Linked DNA regions of Homo sapiens: region 2 is linked to region 1. Evidence: fine-mapped expression QTL. Tissue or cell type: regulatory T cells. Region 1 holds a variant in brackets; the other region holds the start of a gene. All regions are shown on one strand. Distances are from middle to middle.

Evidence for each region. PIP is the estimated chance that this variant, and not a neighbour inherited with it, causes the effect.
Region 2: NALT1 starts here. The variant in region 1 is fine-mapped to the expression of NALT1 in regulatory T cells (Bossini-Castillo 2019, PIP 0.95).

The regions. Positions count from the first base shown.
Region 1 is chr9:136,818,710-136,821,460 of GRCh38, reverse strand. All of the region lies in intron 1 of RABL6 (RAB, member RAS oncogene family like 6), which reads right to left. Among named protein-coding and RNA genes, the nearest start is that of MIR4292, 11 kb to the left of the region's middle. The variant TG/G (reference allele first, on the strand shown) is at 1,260.
Region 2 is chr9:136,546,534-136,549,036 of GRCh38, reverse strand. It overlaps NALT1 (NOTCH1 associated lncRNA in T cell acute lymphoblastic leukemia 1), which reads right to left and starts at 1,195. Exons shown (of 3, transcript NR_121577.1): 1 at 936-1,195. RefSeq lists an enhancer at 1,221-2,132 and a silencer at 2,325-2,424.

The sequences.
Region 1 (2,751 bases):
CGCGGCCCCGAGGTCCACGGCCTGAGCGGCGGCCCTGCCTCCCCGCCCCGGCACCGCTCAGGCGGCCCACGCGCTGTGCTTCCCGGTGGTTTCCACATGCGGTGGTCCCGTCTCCGGGTCTTTCCCGGGAGTGGGGCGTTAGCAACGCGGAGAGCGCAGAGACGGTCACAGCGACCGCCCGTTTTCCCGCGGCCAGAACCAACGCGCTGACGTCCCTTGGTCCCCGCATCTCGGCTCCTCAACCCTACGGGACAGAACCCACTTCCTTCATTTTGTAAAAATGGCACATGCTCTTTGTAAGGAACTTAAACAAGGCAGACAAGCACAAGAACCAATGTTAACAAAGCCTCCCAATGCCACTGCCGGAAACCAGCCCTCATGAACGCGGGGAGCTCATTCCAGGCATCTGGCCAGTTTGGCTTCTGCAGAACGTCGGAGAGTTGGGGTCACACAGAATAATTTCTCTCACTCAGCGATACGCACTTAAGGCTCATGCAGGCCTCTCCACGGCTTGAGAACATCTTTTCAGGACTAAATAATGTTCCACCATCTGGATGCACGGAGTTGATCCATTCATCTACTGAAGGACGTCTTGGCCGCACTTTTCCTTGAATTTCCATTGATATTTTTCTCTTTTCGTAATATATATTATTCGGATACTGCAACACCCACACTCAGCCTCTGTTTATTTTTTTCATATCATTTACCAGCTGTCATTTTGCTGTGAGATTTTCCCTTTATTTTCTAAACCTTCCTTTGATTTTATTTTTGCTTTTTAAAAATTATTATTGGCCGGGCACGGTGGCTCACGCCTCTAATCCCAGCACTTTGGGAGGCCGAGGCGGGCGGATCACCTGAGCTCAGGAGTTCGAGACCAGCCTGGACAACATGGAGAAACCCCGTATCTACTAAAAATACAAAATTAGCCGGGTGTGGTGGTGGACACCTGTAATCCCAGCTACTCAGGAGGCTGAGGCAGGAGAATTGCTTAACCCCAGGAGGTGGAGGTTGCAGTGAGCCAAGATCACACCACTGCACTCCAGCCTGGGCAACAGAACAGAACCGTCTCAAAAAAAACAACAAAATTATTTTTACAAACAGGGTCTCACTGTCACCCAGGCTAGAGCCAGCACAGTGGCACCATCCTAGCTCACTGCAGCCTCAATCTCCTGGGCTCAAGTGATCCTCCCACCTTAGCCTCCCAAGTAGCTCAGACTACAGACATCTGCCAGCTAATTTTTTTTTTTTTTTTTTTTTTT[TG/G]GAAGATGGAGTCTCACTCTGCCGCACAGGCTGGAGTGCAGTGGTGTGATCTCAGCTAACTGCAACCTCCACCTACTGGATTCCAGTGATTCTCCCATCTCAGCCTCCCAAGTAGCTGGGACTACAGGCGCAAGCCGCCATGCCTAATTTTCTGTATTTTAGTAGAGACAGGGGTTCACCATTTTGCCCGGGCTGGTCTCAAACTCCTGAGCTCAGGCAATCCGCCCATCTTGGCCTCCTAAAGTGCTAGGATTACAGATGTGAGCCACCACCCCATGCCTAGTTTTTTTACTATTTTTTTCTTAGAGACAGGGTCTTGCTTTTTGCCCAAGCTGGTCTCGACCTCCTGGGCTCAAGCAATCCTCCTGCCTTGGCCTCCCAAAGTGCTGGGATTACAGGTATAAGCCACGGCACCAGTGAGGATGGTCCACTTTAATCAATGTTCCTTGAGCCTTCAGGTCCAGAGACTTTCTCTGAGCCTGCGGTAACCCTTCACATTTCTACCCGCTCTCTTTCATTTTGAAGTATATTCTGCATATGGCATCACTGTCGCTGTAGCACTAGGACTATAGCTAGAGCAGCTTTCTTATGGTTAATGTTTACCTAGTGTCTTGTTTCCAACTCCTAACTTTCAACCTTTCGACACCATTATGTTTTGGATGTGTCTCTTATACACCACATAGCCAAATTAAAGAAAAAAAAATTCCTCGAATCTCACATTCTTTCGAGCTGGTGAGTTCTGTTTACTGACAACTGCTGCTGCCATGTTATTTTATGATTTTTAGTTACAGCTCTGGTTCCCTTGCCCCTCCCCCAGCCTTCTATGCCTTTGATTAAAGCTGGACAAGGTGGTTTTCTTTTTTTTTTTTTTTTTTTCTTGAGACGGAGTCTCGTTCTGCTGCCCAGGCTGGAGTGCAGTGGCACCATCTCGGCTCACTGCAAGCTCCGCCTCCCGGGTTCACGCCATTCTCCTGCCTCAGCCTCCCGAGTAGCTGGGACTACAGGCGCCCGCCACCACGCCCGGCTAATTTTTTGTATTTTTATTAGAGACGGGGTTTCACCATGTTAGCCAGGATGGTCTCGATCTCCTGACCTCGTGATCCACTCGCCTTGGCCTCCCAAAGTGCTGGGATTACAGGCGTGAGCCACCGCGCCCGGCCTGGACAAGGTGGTTTTCAGAAAGTATTCTTTCTACCTGGTATTTATTTGGAAGATTTGCAACCTGTTTCTACACTTTGGGAACCCTTAAGTTTTCAACACTCACATCTGCTGCAGTGAAGTCTGAAGTTAACACTTCTTCTTAATAATAATATAGAGATCTGAACGCCTTGACTGTCCAGCTTCACCCTGGGCTGTGTTACTTCTGGTAGTTTCTTCTTTTATATACCCTATATAAATCATGATCACCACTGATTAACATAACCAACGCTTATTCCTTTTCTTTCCTTTTTTTTTTTTGATTAAGTCTCACTCTGTTGCCCAAGCTGGAAT
Region 2 (2,503 bases), 270 kb after region 1:
GCCTTGGGCTCAGCACCGGGAGTCTCAGCCCTGGCTGCTCCTTAGAATCTACTGCAGAGCTTTCAACACAGGCACCCCTCAAATACACCCACCCACCAGGTCACTGCTGACCCCCCTCTACTCGGACCACATCTCTCTGGGGCCGGAGCCGGCCCTGGGGTGTTTTAAGGTCACCTGGGTCTCCATGAGCTCCGTCGCTGTCCCCGTGTGCTCACCAGCTGTGCTTACCTCTCCACGCACTTAGGGGTGTGCTCTGCTCTCGAAAGTCCCCACAGCAGCCGCAAAGGAGGGGCCTGGTTGGGCCAATGTCAGCAGGGCCTCCTTAGCTCACCCTGACAATGGTACCCCCATTTCTCTGGCAGCAAACAAGGGGGAACTGACCCAGTTCAGTCTCCTGGGGTGCAACGCCTAAGCCACTCTCCCCTCAGCACCCGCAGGGGGCCTCTGAAGAAGAGAGGGCTGCAGGACACGTCTGCCTCTCCCCTCCGCAAACCAGGCTCTGCGGCCCCATCTCATCTGCTTCCAGGCTCCCTGGCCAGCTTGGGAACAGCCCCATTCATTCGGGGTACCCCTGGAACCTTGCCCCAGCTCCCACCACAAGTTGGGACAGGAAGCCCAAAGTGACTCCTACAGGGGAGGCCTGGCGGCACTGCACCCCAATTCAGCTTCTTGGGGTCCTAGCCCCCACCCTCCCATTGGGTTTCTGGAGTGGCTGGGGTGCCCTGCACACAACCTGCTCTTGTTTCTCTTTAGTCCCCGCAATGCCCGCTGCCCAGGGCTGCCTCCCGACCTGTAGGAGAAGGTCTCCAGGCCCTAGGCCAGCAGATGTACTCCTGTTGTGTCAGGACCCCAGCCTCCCCCGACTGCCCACACCCGCTGGCCTGACAAAGAGGAATGGGGAGCCCGGACAACTTGTGAATGAAAAAGCTTCTCACCTACTTGCCAGGGGCCTACCCCCTTCCCAGGCTGGTGGGGAGGTGAGGCCCATCCCCCTCATCCCTGGCTTCTCCTCGGCCACAGCTGTCCATGGGGTACTCCCGGCTGTGGGTGGTGCAGGGGTTGGGAGCTGGGAGGCCGAGGCCTGTGCTTCCCTCGGGCCTGTGCACCCGGCCGCACCATCCGTAACGCGGGCTTATGAGCGTGCCTGGCTGCTGGGTGGCCTGACGGGTGGACACCGAATGGGCCACTCTCTTCTCTGCTGGTAGAGGATGGAGGCCCAAGGTGGAGGTGCTGTCGGCACAGCTGGGGCAGACCAGGGGAGACCCCCTATCCAGGGATCCCCTCCTCCCCTCCCAGGCCGCCCCTCCGCAAAATGCTGAGGACTGGCCCCCGGGCCTGGGCTACATGGGCCATTACTTCTGGCCTGGGGCCCACAGGCAGAGATGCCAATGGAGGCACACAGGCAGTCGCACCCGCACCCGATCAGCACCAGGCCTGAGGCCTTCGGGCCTCCCTATGCCCCACCCCACCCCCACCCACCAGGAGCAGAGGACGTCGTGGTGGGCAGAGTCCTCAGCCTGGGAGCTGCACAGCCCCGCGCTTCCTTCTATGGAAAATCTGCTCCTCCAGGCTGCCTGGCTGCTGTTACATAAACATCTCTGCTGCCTCCAGGCGCCTCCTCTCCTGGGGCGCTGACCCCAAGATGTTACCCCAGGCCTGCAGAAGTGAGGCCAGATTCTGGGAGGACGCAGGCGAGGGAGGCTCCCAGCAGCAGCTACAGGGGCGGGACAGGCCGCCTGCACTGGCTGTTTCCAGAGTGCTCAGCATTTGGCAAGAGGTGTGCCAGGAAAGGCTTGCTGGGGTCAGGTGTGAGATTTGTCCTGCTTTCTGTGCCTGCCTCTGCCACCATGCTCTGGGGTTTCTGCAGCCCTCCCCCCAGGCCCCCACAGTCCTAGGTCCCTCCCAGCCTTTCGGTCTCCCCGCAGGGCAGGCTTAGCCCTCCTACTCCAGGAGGGGCGCCGGGACACGCGCCTTCTGCCATCGCACTCACCACCCTGTGTTGGGGTGGGGAGGGGGCGCTGTCTGTCCCTGGCACGAGGCCGTGAACTTTGCGCAGGGACTATGGCAGGCATTTTGGACTCCTGGCGCTTAACCAGGCTTGGCACAGGGTGCCCGTGCCTGGCATCGTGGTGGAGAAATAAATCAGCCGGAAGGAGCACGTGGGAAGGGCTGCGCCGGCGCCAGCGGCAGATCCGCCCGACCCGTTTGTGCTTTCTGGGGCCACCTTAGGCAGGCGGCGCCCGGGCAGGAGGAGGACGGTGACCGAGGAGCGTGTCGACGCGGGTCCCCCTTGGGGGAGCGGGGCACAATCCGTCCGCGAGGCACTGGTCCCGGCTGCTCCCTCGGGGCGCCCGGAGTCCCCTGCCCAGAGGCCGCGGCGCCCCCATCCCTCGCGGTCAAGTGCTCGGGCAATCACGGCCAGGGATGTCTGGCGGCGATCGATCCTCTGGACGCCTAAAGCCGCGGCCACGGGGCCCTCGGGAGGGAGTGAAGCCGCTGGGCT